Homo sapiens: one gene and its partners. The protein of the gene in region 1 interacts with the protein of each later gene in a pairwise test. Each region holds a gene or a part of one and is shown on either strand. Other genes may lie near its edges.

Region 1 (7,038 bases):
CTCCCAAAGTGCTGGGATTACAGGTGTGAGCCACCACGCCCAGCCATCTCCTGGGGTGTTATGAAGGTCCACTGAGCTGAGTGATTGTGCAGGTGCCCAGGACAGGTCCTGGAACACACTAGGTGCTCAGCAAGGCACTCTGCTCATTCACCCCAACTGCCCCATGCTGTGTTTAGGACAGGGGGCTGGGCTGTGCTGGGACATGCCCCACCTAGCTCTGGACCATGATAACCCATGCCTTACCTGGGTGGATGTCCTGGAACAGGGACTTCCAGATGGTGTACTGCAGGGGGCCTGTGTACTTGGAGGTCGGGAAGTCTTCATATGTGAGGTTGGTCTCATGGATTTTTCCCTTGAGCCTGGAAGGAGAGCAGGAAAGGGGGCTGCACCAGGGACTGGATTCCTGCCCCAATGCCAGGGGCCCCGCAGCCACCTTCAGGGCAGCTGGCATAGGATGTGGTCATGAGTGAGAAGTCTGTGGGACTCAGATTCAAGTGCCTGCTTGTGCTGCTTCTGGCCTCTCTAACCATTCCCTCAGTCTTCTCATCTTTAAAATGGGTGCTATGCTAGCATCAGCCTTCTAGGCTTTTTGTGAGAATTACATGGCATAACATATACAGATGCTCAGCACAGTGCTCGGTCACGGTCAATGCCAAATTCATGATCTTAGCAATCAGTATTGATCACCAACAAACCAATGACTAAGTGTTATTACTACTAAGGGAAGATTTGGGGTCACAGAGACCTAGGCTTGAATCCTGGCTTACCAGTTACCAGATGGGGGGCCTTGGCCAACTGATGTAGCTTTTCAGAGCCTCAGTTTTTTTCTTTTTTTTCTTTTTTTTTTTGAGACAGAGTTTCGCTCTTATTGCCCAGGCTGAAGTGCAATGGCGCGATCTCAGCTCACTGCAACCTCTGCCTCCTGGGTTCAAGCAATTCTCCTGCCTCAGCCTCCTGAATAGCTGGGACTACAGGTGCCTGCCACCACGCCCGGCTAATTTTTGTATTTTTTTTTAGTAGAGACGGGGTTTCACCATGTTAGTCAGGCTGGTCCTGAACTCCTGACCTCAGGTAATCCACCTGCCTCGGCCTCCCAAAGTGCTGGGATTACAGGTGTGAGCCACCGTGCCCAGCAGGAGCCTCAGTTTCTACATGCATGAAATGATGATGACAGTGGTAACTACTTTCAAAGGGACTGAGAGGGTTACAGTAATATAAAGCCTTTATATAGTAACACGTAATGCCAACATTATCATAAATAAAATAATATGTAATATATTTATATTATGATTGTAAACACTATTAAATGCTACCTACTATCTATAATGTATACAGAATATATTACATATATAATAATGTAAATATATGAAGTCTTTATTCCCAGATCCTTTCTCTCCTGCACCCCTAGAGCCAAGACAGCAGGGTCAAAGTGGCTGCCCTCTAGATGGTTTTCAAACTGTGTTCCTCACCATTGCTGCTGCTCCTCTAGTTCAAGCCTCACTGGCTTCATACTCAAGGCTTCATGCTCCTACCCATAGCAGATGTCCCGTAAATGTTTGATGAAGATTTGAATGAAAGAATTCTCTGCTAAGGATCCCATCTGCCTCCACTCCCACTGCCCAGCATGGGTCGAGGAGGGGATGGTCAGCCGGGGAGGGCCCCGGCGGGTGGCACTTACCGCTCGGACAGTGAGGCCACCCCAGCCAGGAAGGTGTGCCGGTCGGTTTCAGCCAGCCGCTCCTGCAGGATCTGGGCTCCCTCCTGGACCTTGCGCAGCTGCTGGCTGTAGCGCTGGACTTTCTGCTCGATGTCGGTCAGCGTGCGGGCCGTGTCCGCCTCCAGCTCCTCTAGCATGGCCTTCTGGCGTTCACGCAGCAGCCGGTGCAGCCGCTCGAAGGCCTCGCCGATAGTGGTCCGCAGGCTCTTGGTGGAAGACTGTGGGGGACAGTCGTCAGGGGTTATGGCTGGGGGAGCAGATGGGGTGATCTCTGGGTGAGAGGAGGAAATCGAGAGCCTTGACACACAGAGAGGAAAGGGTGGGAAAGGGCACGCGTGGTGGGGGAAATGTCACATGCAAAAGCATGGTGGTAGGAAAGGATGGGCATGTTCTATGTGGTCCATTAAATAGCTAATGAAATGGCCCAGGTGAGAAAATGAGGCCTGAACTAGAGGAGCAGCAGCAATGGTGAGGAACACGGTTTGAGAAACATCTAGAGGGCAGCCTCTTTGACCCTGCTGTGTTGGCTAGAGGGGTACAGAAGAGAAAGGAGCTGGGGATAATGCCCAGGTTTCTGGCTTGGGGGTAGGAGGGATGAGGGAGCTGGAGTGAGGGCTAGGGGACAGGGTGAAGATGTTCTCTCAAGGACATAGTGAAGTCTTTATTTTTTTTGCTTTTATTATTATTAGTTTTTTGAGATGGAGTTTTGCTCCTGTCACCCAGGCTGGAGTGTGATGGCACGATCTCGGATCATTGCAACCTCCACCTCCTGGGTTCAGGCGATTCTCCAGCCTCAGCCTCCCTAGTAGCTGGGATTACAGGAGCCCGCCACTATGCCCGGATAATTTTTGTATTTTTAGTAGAGATGGGGTTTCACCATGTTGGCCAGGCTGGTCTCAAACACCTGACGTTAGGTGATCTGCCCACCTTGGCCTCCCAAAGTGCTGGGATTACAGGCGTGAGCCATCGTGCCCGGCTGAAGTCTTTATTTTAAAAAAATCATTCATGGGGCTCATTCAGGGGGCTCAAGGAAAGATGACAAGATCACAGACATCAAAGAGCTTTGTAAATTGCAACGTATTGAGAAAACCTTGGTGGTTACTCGCTGTCTCCTGTTACCTCTAGGACCCTCTGGCTAAGGAGCAAGGACTGGTGTTTATAGACAGGATCAGGGAGGTAAGCATGAACTTTCATGGTTTTCTCTGCCCCCAAGGGCACTGTGAGGCTCAGGAAGGGTGAAGTAGTGAAGGGCACAGGTTTGGTGCCTGACAGTCTGCGTAAGGACTCTAGCTCTGGGTCTCTAGCTATGGCAACGTCAGTTGCCTAAGAGCTGTGAACCTTAGTTTTCTTATCTGTGAAAGGAGTAACAAAAACTGCATTGTAGGATTGTGGTGAAGATGAAATGAGGGGGTGTTGTTGTGCGCACTCCAAGGCGCAGAGAAAGAGCCTGGTTATTGAAGACTGCAATTCTAATAAGCGTTTCCCGGAAGTCTTCATTGAGAGACGGGTTCTGAGCCGGGGCCTGAGGGATGGGCAGGATGTCAGTTGGGGGTCAGGGGAACAGGCAGAGGGAGCCGCATGAGGAAGGGCTTAACGTCAGGACGACACGGGCTATAGAAGTGCGGCCAGGCTGCAGCAGCATGTGGGGCCTGCCTCTGCAATTTTACTTTGTGGGATTCTGGCTGGGAGTTCATGGAGTCAGAAACCCCACTGTGTTCAGTGCCCAGGGCTCTGTGGGAGGCTCTACAAAGGCTCAATTAGGGCCTGTTCCCTCCCCGACGCGCGGCTGCTGGCCTGCAGGAAGAACTGCTGGCGGTGGGCCAGCCTCGCTGCGCATGCCCACCCAGAACGCCAGGCAGACAAAGGGGGGCGGACGAGAGTCTGGGGATGCACGGCCAGGCTGCCGTGGCCTTCCTGAGCCCCCTCACCCGGGGAGGGTGGAGGCCTCTGCAGCGGCATGTTGCTGATGGGGAAGATGGGGTCCGTCGTCCCTGCACCACCTGGAGCTGCCCTCCACAGGCGCCCAGACTCCGCAGCTACTCCTCTGGCTCCTCCTAGACCACTCTGCAGCACTTAGCCCACTCGCCACCCTCTCCTAGTTGAAAGTTCTGCTTTGCCTCCCATCTCTGTGACTGCTGCCTCTCTGCCTCCCATGTTCCTCGGGGCTCATCCAGGTCAGCGCCTTCCATCCTCACCCTGAACACCTGCCCCCATTTTCAACTTGAACTGCTTTAAGGATGGTTCCCAAGTCCATATAGATGGCCTTGCCTGTCTCCTGAGTGCCACACCCATTTTTCCAACAGTCTCCCCAACACATCCCTCTGGGGTCCCACAGGTCTTTCCAACTCACTTGGTCTACAAGTCAACTCTTGTCTTTGCCAGCAAACTCACTGTCAGAGTGATCCTTCTAAAGTGCCAACTGAATCACAGATGATCCTGAGTTTAGGAACCTTCTTTAGCTCCTTGACACATAGTAAAATGCTGAACTCTTTAGTCTGGCATTCAAGGACCTTCTCAATTTAACCCTAGCTTACCTCCCTAGCGCCACTGCATTGCAACTCCACCTGCCTAGAATGACCCTACCCAAACCCTGTATTCAACTGGCAAACTCCTACTCATCCTGCAAGACCTAGCTTGAAAGTGACCTCTTCAGAGATAACTTTCCTCTCTTTCAGGCACTTGGATGTTCCCAGAGCCTTTTGTCAACAGTCTTAATACATTGTCCCACATTTTCTGTCTCCCTGGCTAGTAAGTGGGCCCCTGCTGGGTAGGAATGACATCTCCCTCGGCTCTGCACCCCTGTGCCCATCCCAGAGCCTGGTACAAGGCTGGCAATCAGGAGTTGCTTGAGGGGTGAAGGAGGGAAGAGTCTTGTCTGAGATTGCTCCGTAGAGCTGGGTGCAGGCTCCAGCTTCTTTCCAGGCTGGGGTTTCAATGTCTCAAGGACGAGAGAGGATGGGAGGGAAAGGGGGGAAGGCAGGGACAGGGCAGCCAGCAGTGGAACATCAGAGTGACAGCCACCCCTGGAGCCCCAAGTACATTCCCGATGAGTCCTACTGACCTACCTGGCTTGCTGACTACAAAGCCATAGCTCTTGCAGGACACCCCAGGAGACATCCCAGCTGCACTATGCACTGGGCTCTGACAGGACTGGATGGTAAGCTCCCAAGTTGCCATTTTCTAGCTGTGGGACTTCAGGTTGGTCCCTCAACCTCTCTGTGCCTCAGTTGCCTCACTGATAAGATTGAGATAACAACAGTTCCTACCTGGGACGATTTTTTTTCTTTCCTGTTTTTTTGGTTTTTGTTTTTGTTGTTTTTTATTTTTTTGAGATGGAGTCTCACTCTTGTTGCCCAGGCTGGGGTGCAGTGGCTCGATATTGGCTCACTACAACCTCCACCTCCTGGGTTCAAGCAATTCTCCTGCCTCAGCCTCTTGAGTAGCTGGGATTACAGGCACCCACCACCATGCCCAGCTAGTTTTTGTATTTTTAGTAGAGACGGGGTTTCACCATATTGGCCAGGCTGGTCTTGAACTCCTGACCTCAGGTGATCCGCCCGCCTCAGCCTCCCAAAGTGCTAGGATTACAGGCGTGAGCCACTGTGCCTGGCCGATTTTTTTTTCCTTTCAATCACTTTTTTTATAACTACTTATTGTGTGCCAGACACTGTGCTAGGTTTTAGGGAATCCTGCTCTCGTGGAGGTGACATTCTGTGAGGTTGGCAGGATAATGAAGAGGAACACAATTCTCAGCACAGAGAAAAGTTCTGCTCAACTGGTGCACCCCATTTATTCTAGTTCTTTCCAGGGCAGAGTCACCCTTTCCCCAACCCCCTCCTTTCAGCTCTGTGGCTGGGGAAACAGCCCCCACCCCAACCCACCACATCCCTTGGAACACCCTAGGGCCTGGAGGTGCTGGGGCCCTTTCAGAAAAACACCCTGCCAAGAATGCATCACCCCGCCAGGGCGCCGACCAAGGAAAACAGAGGGCCTGAGGAGGGAGATCAGACAGGCCCTCAGGCCAGGCCATTGGAGGGGCAGGCGCAGCAGGAAAGCCGAGTCAGGCACCAGGTGAAATATGACCTCCAAAGCATCCATAGGCATTTCTTGTATAAACACCCCAGTCCAGACAGGAAGTGGGGCTGGGGGAACTCGAGGGGGATGTGGCCCCACAGGACCCCCCAGAGGCAGACAGATGGACAGGAAAGCGGGGGAGGAAGAGGTCAGTGGAGAAAAACAAAGAGGGTGTGGGATGTGGAGAGAAGAGAGTGCTGCTGGGGAGAAGGAACAGCCCATAATACTCCGCTCTCATACAGAGAGAGGCTTCCATTTGCTTCTCATCATCCAAGAGGTACAGAATCACCAGACAGTTGGGGAAACTGAGGCTGCAAGAAGCAATGAGGCCAGCATCCTGTGACTGTTTATCATCTGTTGCCCCCGAGGGTCCTGCCCAGAGGCACTCTGGAATGTTCTGTGAAGAATTGTTTGTCATGACCTTCCTGAGACCCCACAGTGGGTTGGTGGCCAAGCTGGGGCATAGATCTGGGTTTCCAATGGTGTCTTCAGGCCCCAGGATGACCTCCAGAGGCCCAGCGCATTCCTAAGGCTCTGCCGCAGCTCCTGCTGACAGAGCGGGGTCAGCCTGAAATCACCCCAGGCCTCACGACACAGAGTCACTCTGTATAGTGGGGACTCCACCCGGCACCTTCCAGTCCCAGAGTGCTGGACTGAGCCTGGCAGTCCCCACTGGACAGATGGGAAGGCTGGGGACCCAGGAAAGCATGCAATTTACCCAAAGTCACACAGTGAGTTAGTGGTGGGATCAGAACCCATGTCCTTCTCAAGTCAGTGGAAAAGTCTGTTTGTTTGTTTGTTTGTTTGTTTCCCAAACCACGGTAGCCAGAGACTGCAGAGTTTGGCCCTACCTTTCAGAGTCTGTATCCCATGGCCTGAGCTTAAGGGGAGATGATACCAGGGCTGGGCCACCTCTGGAGGGCTTCGAGGGGACATGCTCAGGATTGACTCCTAGGCAATGGGCTTATTCATTCATTCATTCATTCATTCATTTTAGAGACAGGGTATCACTCTGTCACCCAGGCTGGAGTGCAGTGGCATGATCATGGCCTACTGCAGCCTCAAACTCCTGGGCTCAGGCAATCTTCCCATCTGTCTCAGTCTCCAGAGTAGCTGGGACTACAGGCATGTGCCACTACGCCTGGCTATATTCAATTTTTTTTTTTTTTTTTGTAGAGAAGGCATCTCGTTATATTGGCCAGGCTGGTCTCAAACTCCTGGGCTCAAGCCATCATCTTGCCTCGGCC
Region 2 (7,038 bases), on another chromosome or scaffold:
GGGTTTCATCATGTTAGCGAGGATGGTCTCGAACTCCTGACCTCAGGTGATCCGCCCTTCTGGGCTTCCCGAAGTGCTGGGATTACATGTGTGAGCCACCACGCCCGGCCGATAAACTATTTTACCGCGAGCATAGGTGAGCAAACGTGCACAATAGAATATTCGCCCATGAGTAGTCCCCAATTTGCTAAGGAAAAAAAACCATTGGCCCTCGCTTCACCCTTCCTCTTCTCCTTTTCTCACCAGGACAAAATTTCAAATCCAACTTTTATTTATTAAATTAAAAAAAAAAGACTCCACAAAGGGCATGATCCCTTCCATTCCACAATGTTCTCTCCCCAAGCTCCAGCGGCTTTAACCCTTTAACTTGGGGCCTTGAGACAGCAGGGGACAGAAAAGGAGGATCCAACGTTACAGGAAAGGCACGAAGCGGCTTTAAAAGTCACTGGAGGTGGAGATGGGAGCATCCAAAGTCCCAGGGTGGGGGTGCGTGGATGCACCACCAGATCAGCTTGGGGGCCTCTGTCCTCCTAGCTCTTTAAGTTCTTTCTCAGGGCTTCTAGGCACCAGATCTAGCATAGTGCCTTGCACAGAGTAGGCACTCAATACATACTTATTTGAATCTGATCCTAGAGAAAGCCTTCCCCACCCATTCTTCAGGAGGTGCACCCCCAAACCAATGTCCTCCTGTTAGATGGGCTTCCCCAAAGAGCACATCTAAGATGGCAGCTGCAAGCTCTCCATAACCATGGCAACAGGGGATTAACCTGATGGGGTCATGGTGTCTAAGGGGTGGGGCAGTGGAGGAACCTGCTCTGCAGTCAAGGGAGATGGGGTACATTCCAGTCCTTCTCCCCTCCATAGGACTTGAGGTTTCACAGCTTCTGGCTGGGGCTGGGGATATTAGGGATCCCCCTAATCAAGAGATACCCCATCAACTGTTTAGCAGAGATGTAGCTAACCCAATTTGTAGAGACTTCATTACAAGAGAAACCCTATCAACTGAGATTCTGATGATAGACATTCTATTAACAAGATCTTCTCCACTAACATTTTGTCTATACAGAGATGCATTTGACTAGAATTTCCTTAGCAGAAATGGATCCACTTCCCTCCCCAGCTCACTCTACCTGACCCGTCATCATAACTTACATAAATAGAATTATTACTATTCATTACTCCTGGTACATAGGGGTTAAATATACAGGCCTGGGGGCAGCCTCCCTGACCCTGGGGTCACCCCATCTTTGGGATCAGATCCCCACTGGTCTGCCCCCCTCTTGGCACCCTCTGGCCAGGTCACTAACCCCAATACCCCTGATGAAGAGGCCACCAGGGGGCAATAAATTATCATTATCATTGTGTTTGTAAAAAGGAAAAAAGAGTTCTGGAGAATGGAAAGCAATGGTGTAAGAAGTTGGGAAGACTGAAGCCTGGAGGCTGAGGGACAGCAGGAAATAAGCTTGAGAAGCAGAAAGGGGTACATGTCAAGGAGTGAGATGGAGAAATAGTGTTGGGAGCCCAAATAGAAAGTGTGTTGGTGTGGCAGGGCCAGAGTCTAGGAAGCCGGAGTGCAGGTATCAGGCACAAGGGGAGGGCCTGAGATGAGAGTTTGTGGAAAGCCAGTCTCATGGTGAAGAGAGAAGGTGAGCTGAGGAGGCATGCAAGGAGATACCCAAGCCCAGAATGGCCAGGAGGGAGACAGAGGGAGAGAGCCCCGAAGGATGGCATGCATGGGGTAAAGAGAGTGATTGGCAAGCAGTGGTCTAGAGAGCCAAGAGAGACTGTCAGGGCAGCCCTGGGGTGGGAGACCTTCCACCCGGCTCAGATCTCCAGCAAGTTGCTCTGCTCAGGGCTGCCTCCAGGGGCTTTCTCTGGGGTTGCTGGCGAGGCAGAAGGTCGGGGCGTCTGACTGGCCTCCTCTTCCCCCGTGCTGCGGCCCTCCCCCAGCTCCTTGGGGCCACTGGGAGGGGGACCCGGGCCTGGTTCTCCATGGGTGCGCTGGTGTTTGCTCAGGTGGTCGCTTCGGGTAAAGCGCTTGGAGCAGAGCAGGCAGGTGAACTTCTTCTCCCGGGTGTGAGTGCGCACATGACGCTCCAGCTCATCCGAACGAGTGAACCTCTTGCCGCAGAAGAGCCAGTTGCAGACGAAGGGCCTCTCGCCTGTGTGCCAGCGCAAGTGGGCCTTCAGGTGCGAAGCCTTGCCATACACCTTGCCGCAGCCAGGGATGTGGCAGCTGTGGATGGGCTTCTTCCGCAGCCCAGCCGCTGCTGCTCCCAGCCGCTCTAGCTCCTGGCAATTAGGGCAGTCGCAGGAGGAGCGCCCTGCCCCACTGCCCCCATATCCACCACTACCCCCAGTGCTTGCACCCCGTGGGGGTTTGGCTCCACCACTCCCTTCTAGCTGCCCACTATTTCCCACTGCCTTGGGTTTATAGACATCTTGGGGCAAGACATGCTGGGGCCCTGGTTGCAAGAGGTGGGGAGCTGGGTAGGGGGCTGGATTAAGGGGAGCAAAGTCAGATGGGTAGGTGGGCAGCTGGGGGTTCAGTGGAGGCTGAGCTGGACCTGTGGGCAGTGTCCCTTGCAGCCCATCACCCTGGCCCTGCCCACCACCTAGCCAGTTGCCTCCAGGGTGCATATCCCACCATGGAGTAGGAGTGTTGCCTGGGCCTGGTGAAATGCCTGCATGGATGCCTGCCTTGTACCAGGAGCCATAGGGGTGTGTCATGTCCAGAGAGGTGTAGACACTGGGCAGACAGTCAGAAGAGCTGTGCCCCTTGGGCACTAGTAGCCCAGGGTCCTGGGTGCCTGTGGGCCCAGGGAATGAGTGGGAAAAGGGAGGGTAATCATTAGCATAGCCTGAGGTGGGTGCTGGAGGACTGCCTGCAGGTGAAAGGAGCCCATTAGTGCTTGTAAAGGGGGCTGGATAAGCATCCCCCATGGTTTTGGAGGCTGAAAGGTCACTGCCCACAGAGTACGGCTTCTTTGTGCCTGCTTTGCCCAGAGTTGTTGAGTCCCGCAGAGGGCTAGAGCCACCAAATTTGCTGCACGCTGCCGTCAGCATGGCCAGGGGACTGGAGCCATAGTGAACTTCCTCCTGTGGAAAGAGGGACGCACTGCTTAGGGAGAGGGGAGGAGAGGTACAAAATGAAGGGCAACACTTTAGGACTGAGACCTAGAGACATCCACAACAGAACAGAGGGGTCAGGGAAGAGTTGAAGAGGGTGGAGAATTACAGGTAAAAGAGGTTAGCCAGTGAGGGCTGGACCTCAGGGCAGACTCATGGAGTCGTGGGAAGAAGAACAGAGGCCCAAGACTGCAGCTCAGTATCCCAACCCAGAAGGCAGGAAGCAGAGCTCATTCTGGAGTTGCTAGGGGTGTACTAGGGGCCTCCAAGGAACAGGAGGTTCTTTTTCTTTTTTTTTGAGATGGAGTCTCGCTGTTGTCGCCCAGGTTGGAGTGCAATGGTGTGACCTCGGCTCACTGCAACCTCCGCCTCCCGGGTTCAAGAGATTCCCCTGCCTCAGCCTCCGGAGGAGTTGGGATTACAGGCACCCACCACCACACCTGGCTAATTTTTTTGTATTTTTAGTAGAAACAGGGTTTTGCCATGTTGACCAGACTGGTCTCAAACTCCTGACCTCAGGTGATCCGCCCACCTCGGCCTCCCAAAGTGCTGGAATTACAGGCATGAGCCACTGCGCCCGGCCTTTTCTTTTTATTTAAAAAAAAAATTATTTTTTGAGACAAAGTCTTGTTCTGTCACCCAGGCTGGAATGCAGTGGCCCAATCTCGGCTCACTGCAAACTTTGCCTCCCAGGTTCAAGCAATTCTCCTGCCTCAGCCTCCCACATAGCTGGGATTACAGCCGCACGCCACCACATTGAGCTATTTTGTATTTTTAGTACAGACGCAGTTTCACCATGTTGGCCAGGCTGGTCTTGAACTGATGACCTCAAGTGACCCAAAACTCCTGACCTCAACCTCCCAAAGTGTTGAGATTACAGGTGTGAGCCACCGCACCCAGCCAAAAAAATATTTTTAGAGACAGGGTCTCACTCTGTCTCCCAAGCTGGATGGAGTGCAGTAGCACCATCACAGCTCACTGTAGCCTCAAACTTCTTTCTGGGCTCCAAGCGATCCTCCACCCTCAGCCTCCAGAGTAGTTAGGACTACAGGCACACACCAGGGGCTCTTTTTAAATGGCTGTGAGAAGAACTGGGGATAGAGACAGCAGCTAGGTGAAGTGAGAATTGGGGATCCTGACCCTTGGAAGTAGGTTTGGAGCAGATCGAGGCCATGGGCAGGGCCTTGGAGAGGAAAGATGAGGCTCAAAGTGCAGTGTAGGGAGAAGGTCAAAGTATTAGGGGACTATATTTGCTCCCATGACAGATTTTCCCAGCTTCATCCCATACCCGATATTCCATTTCCTGTCGCTGCTTCAGCTCCTGACTAAGGCAGTGGTCTTGTCTCCCTGAGGTCCAATCCTCATGTCCCTGCTAAGGAATCTCTTGGCAGAGACTCCGGCTGGAGAGCAAGAGGAAGTGATGGTGGAGACACTGGGACATTGAGAGGGAACAGGGCTGCCGCCAAGCCCAAACTGTGGCTGAGACAAGAATGCCTTTCAAGCAGGCAGTGAGCACCTCCTGCTTTGTGGTGCCAGCTGGTACCCCTTTGAGAGGGCTGTAAGAGCCCAAAGTCGTCATGCCCTTCCAAGGCAAGGAATGGGGTAACTAAGATACTGGCCCACAGCCACACTGCTTCATGCCTCAGTGTCCCCTAACATGTAGTCCTTCTAGCACTGTGAATGAAGGAAGACATGGATGTAGTATATGGGAGTCTTTTAGAAATGCAAGGGTATCTTCTAGCCAGGCGCGGTGGCTCACGCCTGTAATCCCAGCACTTTGGGAAGCTAAGGTGGGTGGATCACTAGATCAGGAGTTCAAAACCAGCCTGGCCAAGATGGTGAAACCCCATCTCTACTAAAAATATAAAAAAATTATCTGGGTGTGGTGGCAGGCGCCTGTAATCCCAGCTATTCGGGAGGCTGAGGCAGAGAATTGCTTGAACCTGGGAGGTGGAGGTTGCAGTGAGCCAAGAAGGTGCCACTGCACTCCAGCCTAGGCTACAGAGCAAGACTCCATCTCAAAAAAAAAAAAAAAAAAGAAAGGCAAAGGTATCTTCTTAATGCCCACCATGCTGCTGCTACCAGGCCAAACCACTCTCAAGATCTTTACCTCTCAGGAACTCATGGTTCCTGATGGTGCCTCTCCCTGGGTGAGGCATCCAAGGAGGAAATGCCCTATAGCATCCCTGGCTGGCATAGACGGTCATTCATTGCTGGGAATCCCACCAAAAAAGATGCCCTCAAAATCTACCCCTATACAGTTATATGGGTATGAAAGGGCTAGAAGAACAGTTTTGAGGATTGGGTTCTTCATAAACTCATATGGGCCTGATCCTTTCCCAGTAAGGCTGAGAAAAGAACTCAAGAATCCAGAGTTCTCACACCTGTCTGGTAGCTCTTAGCATGTAGTATGTGTACGATGCCAATCCGAGAGGTGGGCCTGGGGCCCTGGGGTTGCCATGAGGCATGTGTGCAGTCCCCACTTCTGCGCTACACCCCAAGTGCAAACCTGCTGCTCTTCCTGCACAGTTGCCTCTCTCTAAGGTCCCGTTGACTCCCAAACTGAGCCACCAAAAGTTTTCTCCAGTCTAACCACAGTGAACACTCACGGTTCCCCCAGTCAGGGTTTCCCGGGAACCCCTGATCTTCCAAGCAGCGGGTGAGCTATGGCAGGGTAGCTGATGGGGAGGAGTCAAATCCTAGCAGAAAGAAGAGGTAGAAACATGGAGTTCAAAGCAGAGAGGCAGATACCCAGAGATATGGGGCACAAAGGACCTGCATAGGGTAAGGGATTGACAAAAAAGACCCATAGCAATGGGGGAAGGAGGACCTGAGAGGAAAAATTGGCATTGAATAGCAGAAATAGCTATAATTCCAGCACTTTGGGAGGCCAAGTGGGGGAGGGTTGCTTGAGGCCAGCAGTTTGAGACCAGCCTGGGCAACATAGTGAAACCCCATTTCTATAACAGATTTTAAAATTAGCTGGGCTTGGTGGTGCATGCCTGTAGTCCTAGCTCCTCAGGAGGCTGAGATGGGAAGCTCACTTGAGCTAAGTAGTTAGAGGCTGCAGTGAGCTATGATTGTGCCACTGCACTGCAGCCTGGGCAACACAGCAAGACCCTGTCTCAAAAACAACAGCAACAACAAAAAAGAAGCAGAAATAGGCAGGGACCTAAAAGACCAGAAAGGTAAAAAGACACAAACTAAGAAGGAGAGATGATGGAAAAGAGACTGGGCTAGAAAAGCAAAGGAAAGCAGAGAAGAAAAGAAAGGAGTGGAAAAAAGAAAAGGGGGAGGAGGAGGAAGAAGGCGGCCTTCCTACCTAAGAGAAAACCACCATGGTGCTGGGCCCCAGAAAACCCCCAGACCAGGCCACTCCTCCCTTCTTCTCCCCCCTGACCGCCCCCTCTCCCTCTGCCCAGCCCGGCTCCGATGGTTTCCCTGCGGTCGGTTTATTTTTAAAAACGCCGACGCCGTCCCCCGCCCGGCCCTCACACTGCGGCCACAGGGGCCTCAGCCAAGCCCAGGGACCCCACCCAGCTGTGGGGAGGGAAGGAGGGGTGAAAGAAGGCAGCCAGCCCCAGGCCAACAGGAGACCCCAGCCCTGGGGAGTGGAGGCCCAGAGGGCCCTCGAGGGCAGGGAATGGGGAGCGAGGAACCAGACCCACTCAGAATGCTCTGGGGGCTACAGGCTGAGCACGTGGCTAAGTTTCACCACAGCCTCAGTTTCCTTCTCTTGCTGATTGTTCTCTCCTGAGAACTTGGGGAAAGAGCACTGGTTAAGAGTTCTAAACATGTGTCCCCATACCTGATCAAATGTGTTCCCTTTCCAGGGCCCAGCAGTCCCACCTTCGAGTTGTTCCCTCCCGACCTCCACCCCACCACCCTTAAAACAAAACAAAACAAGAC
Region 3 (6,416 bases), on another chromosome or scaffold:
GTAGAGTATCTACATGCACAGTGTTTTTGAATTCCAGAAGAGGGAACGATGATTTTTCAGTCAAAAGGCCATGAGAGGAGAGAGAAAATATAGGGGAAATGATCTGTAAATCAGGCCTTGAACGAGGAGGAGTTTCAAAGTAAAACAAAGAAGAAAAGGCATCTCAGGAGAAAGAAACACAATGAACATGGACAAAGAAGTGTGAAAGTGCAGGCAAGTGGTCCAGAGTGGATCAGATACTATAACCTCCGGTGGGAGGGCTTTCATATTGTGCAGTGTGTAAACTGAACAATTATCCATAGCAATCCTGGTGTAAACTGAACAATTATCATAGCAATCCTGGTTGAAGGGAGTGGTTAGGGCCCACAAAAGAAAGAAGCGAGAAGTACAAGGGCCTTAAGTGGGAAATGGCAAAAAGGAATATGAAATGAAAAAGACTGTTATTAAACCCTAAGCATTATTCAGTAAGCCAGGGCTGGCATTTATTTCAATATGAAATTTCAAAATTATATCAGCCATTTGTACTCAGTGAGTGACAGCAGCACGTGTCTTTATTTATAATGGCAGGGCCAAATATAAACACAGTTTTAAGTTAGTGTATTTCGCATAACATTCCTTAATGTCTTGAGAACATGCAAATGAATTGGACAAAAATCACTGAATCATCTATAGGTTTTTTTTATTAGAAAAGAAATTAAGTGTTGTCACTAGAGATTGAAGGAAATTAACAATCTTACAATTCTAGAACAGGCAAACTTCATGATAAGGGATTCTTAAGTTTTCAAAGTGTAGGAGCTCTTTCACAGATACACTCTTGGTGTAGGGGGCTGTAAGTTTTATCAGATGTTTTACATTTCATGCTTTAATCTTTGCTGGTAGTCTAAATAAAATAAATACACAGTGTTCAGGATTATCTGGATAGCCATCTTAAATAACAGAGTGTTCCGCATGACCACAGCCTCTGCACTTGTGCCTCTGATCCATATGACACCAAGACCAACTATGCTTTTCATATGATTTCTCCAATTGGGTCCTGTGACCTTTCACAGAATTGTTGAACATTTCCTATGAGATCTGTGGAGGACAAGGTGGAGAACACTGGTTCAGAGCAGTGATTTTCAAGGTGGGATGGGATGGGGTGGAGTTGAGTGGAGAGATGCATGTAGTTAGAAAGAACACATTCAAAATACCCACTGATTTCATAATACAAACTCCATAAAGTCAAGCAGCAAAATGATTTTAGCTAATGGGCAGTAGCAGATAACCAACTGTGGATTCATCATTGTGGAGAAGGAGTCTGGATAAACATAGTTGAAAAACACTGGCTTAGAGGTAGAGACATGCCGACACATGGAGAACAGTAAGAAACGCATGCCAAAGAGGACAATTGAGGGTCAGTGAGCGAATCCTGGGCCAGAACTTGTCACAGTCTTCTGAAAACCAAAGAGCACATCCAGAAGAAAACCAAGATGGCCCGTCAACCTTCTTGGCCCTGTGATTAAGAGCAAGTTGGTCCACTTTTAAATACTGAGCCAAAAGAGGAAAAAAGCTGTTTGTGCCCCCAAATTCATCCACCAGAAGTGCTGTCATCATTTGCAATGCCATCCAGCTCTTGAGGAGGGACGTCAGCATGGGGCCTGTTCTGCCAGGAAAGAAAGAAGGGATCTCCTTGTAAGGCAAAATCCTTCCTTTCTCTCATTACCAGAACACTTACACCTGCCATTTAAACACACTCTGTTGCAGATGGCCTTGAGATGCAGCTGCCAGTAAAATACTGACAGCATAGAACACTGAAGGAAAAGGCCAAATGCAAATAAGGAGACTTTCTGAATATGGGGGACTCTAATGCCCACACCAAAATAGAAGCAGTTGGAGAAATAACATTTCCCATCTTCTCTCATTCTTAATCTAAGCCTAAATTGCTAAACATGTCCCAGAATAGGAAACCATTAATTGGGTTTGAGTGCTTTTAGTACCAGTGGTAAGGCCAGGAAGTGAACTCAGACAGACATAGGGTGCACCTGCTGTGATGATATCGTAGAATTCTGATTAGAAGATTTATAGCATTGACTATTTCATTTCAGAGAAATCAGTGGTATTTTTTCAGACCTTTTTCCCCCTTCTGTTGCTATGCTGAGTAACCATCACAAATAATGTATACTCATTGCCCAAGAAATGAGTTATTAATTAGCAGGCAATAGATACCCCTCCAAGAACATTTTGGTTAAAGAACCATTCATTTCTCCCTCAACTAAAGCAGCATTTACATCTCTCTGGGTACAGGTCTCTGAATTGGCCTGCTTGGGAGCTAGCTAGCGCTAGCTGTGCTGGGGAACTGGGGGAGGGAGGAGCTCAGACTCCAAAACCATCACGGTTCCCTTCTGAAATGTTCATCGCCCTGTGGTTTTCCACAGAGCCAAAGATCTCCTTTAGGTTACTGATTTTAGAAAACTTTGTTTTGGCTTTTGGGAAGCCAATTAAATAGAGTTGATTTGCCAAGTGAACACAGGTAAAGCCAAAATGACCTGTGTTTCACATTGCGTTTTGAATAAATCCAAATTGTTTACCATGGCCTGGGTGCTCTGGCCCCTGCCCACCTTTCTCGCTATTCTTCCTTTTCACTGCACTTCATTCACTCTATTCCTGCTTTCTTTCTGTTCCACGAACATCCCTTACCTGTTGCCACCTCAGAGCCTTTGCACTTGCTATTCCCTCTGCCTGAAAAGCTCTTCTGCTTCATCTCTGCATAGCAGTCCCCTTGTTAACCAGGTCTCAGCTCAACCCTTCCTGAGAAAGGCCCTCCCTTACCATGTTAGCTCAATTTTCTCCCCACCCCATGACATATTCTGTCACATTATTCTATTCTATTTCAGGATTTGCTTGTTTTTGATCTGTCTACCTCTCTAAAATATAAGTTCCAGGTTATCATTTTATGCATCATTATATTCTCATGTGTCTGGCACATGCTTAATAAATATTTCTTAAATGAAGCTTGAGTGAAAGGATTTCTCTCATTGACACGATCTCTTTGTAAAGTGTGAAATTCATAAGTGATTGACATCACCATTCCTCAACTCACCCCAAATCATTTCTTCCCCCAACCAGAATGCTGTCATACAGTATAACAAACCACGACAGAAGAATTCCACGGTCTCCCATGTTCCTGGCCCAGCACCTCACCTGCCACTCACCTGTGGTTACTGCAGAGCTCCAATCTGCTTTAGCCGCGTCAGCAGTTCCCCACTCTGTTGCAAAGAGACTAGATCACTGCATCCGCCTATACAATCTTTACCAATAAAGACTCGAGGCACCTAAAAAAGCACACGACCCAGGACATTACTACATTACTAGATTAGACAGAACATTTCTATCCTACCACTAAATATTTCCCGTGATTCCAAACTTTTCAAATCACTTTAAAACCTCCTTATGTATATGCTCACAGGACAGGACTTCCTTTCTGTTATAAGGGGTAACATTATTAACTCGAGAATGTTTTTACGCCAGAAGAGTTTTCAAGTTGTGTGCTATGCATGAGCTTGTCCAACTTGTCAAAGGGATTTAAAAATTTCACTCTACAGAAACATGTTTCAGAAGGAGAATTCTGATTGGCTGCAGTCAGACCACCTAGATTGAACTCTGCTTTCTCTGCATCAGGGACCACACCTAAGATTGTAAACTGGGTCACAGCAATCAGGAAGGAAGGAGTTCGTTTCTAAATACAGCTGGAAAAGTATTTGCATTACGTCTCTGATTTTTCAGGTCCATGGTTTATTAAGTACAATCATCTCTCTGTGTTGTTAAAACACAGGTGAGGGCCAGGCACAGTGGCTCATGAATGTAATCCTACTACTTTTGTGAGGCTGAGGTGGGAGGGTCGCTTGAGCCCAGGAGTTCAAGACTAGCCTAGGTAACATCGTGAGACCCCGTCTCTACAAAAAATACAAAAATTAGCCAGGCATGGCGGTGCATGCCTGTAGTCCCAGCTACTCAGGAGGCTGAAGTGGAAGGATTGCTTTGGCCCGGGAGGTCGAGGCTGCAGTAAGCTGTGATGGTGCCATTGCACTCACACCTGGACGACAGAGCAAAACAAAGAAAGCAAAACAAAGCAACACAAGTGAGCTCTGTCCTCAACCAGGGGGGTGTAGTGGTGTTTGAGTCTCCTTTAATCGCTGGTCCATCATAAGATGGTTAACTCACCCCGGATGAGGGTGCGTCACCCACGCCAAGCCACAGTCATGACACCTGCTGAATAGGCTCCTCTCTAGTTACACACTTCCTCCCTGCTGCTAGGAGCAGACACATTCCAGAATTCCAGAGGGCTTTTAGAATCGCGAGGGAGGAGGAAATACCCTCAACGTGGCTGAATTTATAGGCCAGGAGTGTTCCACCAAGGCTGCCTGGCAGTGAAGAAAAAAGCCCCATGGAGGTCACCGCGTCATCAGAGCCAGCGGGCCTCTCCCCGAGTACCAGGAACGCACTGGAGGGGAGGGAGAGGTGGAGGCAGAAAGCAATGAGACTATTTTTCAAAGCTTTGGGCTTTCCTCAGAAAGCATAATAATTGGAGCAAATTGTCCAAAAAGTGAGAAAGGTGAGAAAAGGGGCTTCATTATTGTGGATAAGTTCTTACAGCACTTTTATTAAAAAGGGGGTCTGGGTGAAGGTAGGCATTAAAAATAAAGTCTAAAAATTAAAAACAAATCTTGCACATTTCCATGGCTATTCCCTGTGCTCTCACAGGATAACTGAGGCTTTGAAAACCCACAGCCCTGGAGCTGCCCCCCAGCCTCCTGAGATGACCCTGAAATGTGACCAGGCTGCTCCCAGCGTGGAGTTTTGTGCTCAGTGTCTGGCAAAGAAGCGAAAGGCTCCTTTACCCTCACACCCATCCTCTAGTCTGGACAACTGCAAAACTGCCATAAATCGTATCAGTGAATGGTACCCCTAACGGGAGCTGAATGGCAGGCTGTACAGACGGCACGGGGGTGCTGTGGCAGTGAAACCAAAGCAAGAAGTACTGTTGATAAAGTTGAGCAAAGAAGAGGAAATACCCTGTGCTGCTTCCCCTCCTGTCCCTTCCCGTCCCAGCCTCCTCTTTAGAGGAACTTGAGAGTCCGCTACTGTCAAGGAGAGGAAAGAACTGCCACCCCAAAACGAGTTTGGTAATCCTGTGGTTCTTATTCTCCTGCACTAGGTTTCCCCAGCCTCAGCCAGGCAACATCTCCTGTACGCTAGCTAGGGTTACACAAATGCAACTACTCAAAAGCAATTTCTCAACACTCCTCGGCTACCTCCCTGGTATAAGCCACCTTCATCTGTCACCTGAATAACTACTATAGCCTCCCAATGTCTCCCAGCTTCAACCTTCACCTTTGCCCTACTGTCTCTTCTCCCCACAGCTGCCAGAGTGGCCCTTTCAAAATGGGGTCAGATCAAGTGACTCGTCTGCTCAGCACCCACCAGGGGCATCTCATCTCACACCGAGTACCAGTCACAGTTCTTCCAAGCTCCTATTAGCTCTCAGACCTCACCTCCACTAACTCTCCTACTGGCTCACAGTGCTGCAACTATACTGGCTTCCTTACTATTCCACAAACCTGCCAGGCAAACGTCTACCCCAGGACCTTTGCATTCACTCTACCTGTAAATTGTGTACACCCATCTCCCTCAGCTCCTATAGATATCTGCTCGAATGTTCCCTTCTCAGTGAGACCCAATGGCTCCATTTAAAACTGGACCCTGATGCTTCCTCCCTACCTTTCCTACTTTTCCTCATAGCACGTGCCACTTACCAACTCCCAACATACTGTTTTATTACTGTATTTGTTTGTCTCCCCCACTAGAATATAGGTTCAACAAAGGCAGAAGGGTTTTTTTCATGGCAGAAAAGGCAGAATTTTTTCCCCAATGTACATAAAAGTGTCTGGTACATAGTAGGTGCTTAAAAATATTTGTTGCATCCAGTAAAATCATCATTCAAATGCGAAGGAGAAATACTTTCTAAGGTAAACAAAACTTGAGGGAATGTGTTACCAATGGAATCACCTTGCAAGAAATGCCCAAAGAAGTTCTTCAGAGAGAAGGGAAATGATATAGTTCAGAAACTCAGATCTATGTAAAGAAAAGTGCATTAGAGGAGAAATAAATGAAGGCACTAATTTAGGAGCTGTGACTATAGCAAAACAAAAACAGGTTTTACCAAGTACATGGCTTGATTGAAGCCACTAACTTTCCATAATCATGTCCTGCTGATTACCTACTAGATACAGCTACTTTATAGAATAATTAAGACTGCAGGATCAGGCCGGGCGCCGTGGCTCACGCCTGTAATCCCAGCACTTTGGGAGGCTGAGGCGGGTGGATCACGAGGTCAGGAGATTGAGACCATCCTGGCTAACACAGTGAAAACCCGTCTC

Evidence for each region. Proteins that work in one complex are often made in the same cells at the same time.
Region 2: the proteins of TRIM62 (region 1) and SP7 interact in binary tests that used the Homo sapiens proteins (3 or more experiments, as listed by UniProt).
Region 3: the proteins of TRIM62 (region 1) and GLRX interact in binary tests that used the Homo sapiens proteins (3 or more experiments, as listed by UniProt).

Annotation. Positions count from the first base shown.
Region 1 is NC_000001.11:33,158,010-33,165,047, forward strand, and holds part of TRIM62 (E3 ubiquitin-protein ligase TRIM62), read right to left. Parts: exon of another isoform or gene 2,957-7,038; coding exon of another isoform or gene 2,843-2,956; intron 1,936-2,842; coding exon 1,679-1,935; intron 360-1,678; coding exon 244-359; intron 1-243. UniProt on the Homo sapiens protein: E3 ubiquitin ligase that plays a role in antifungal immunity by mediating 'Lys-27'-linked ubiquitination of CARD9 downstream of C-type lectin receptors; leading to CARD9 activation, followed by activation of NF-kappa-B and MAP kinase p38 pathways.
Region 2 is NC_000012.12:53,326,322-53,333,359, forward strand, and holds the end of SP7 (transcription factor Sp7), read right to left. Parts: intron 3,100-7,038; coding exon 1,825-3,099; 3' UTR 254-1,824; downstream 1-253. UniProt on the Homo sapiens protein: Transcriptional activator essential for osteoblast differentiation. Binds to SP1 and EKLF consensus sequences and to other G/C-rich sequences.
Region 3 is NC_000005.10:95,813,316-95,819,731, forward strand, and holds the end of GLRX (glutaredoxin-1), read right to left. Parts: intron 3,312-6,416; coding exon 3,198-3,311; 3' UTR 3,192-3,197; exon of another isoform or gene 3,181-3,191; intron 1,643-3,180; exon of another isoform or gene 1,075-1,642; 3' UTR 534-1,074; downstream 1-533. UniProt on the Homo sapiens protein: Has a glutathione-disulfide oxidoreductase activity in the presence of NADPH and glutathione reductase. Reduces low molecular weight disulfides and proteins.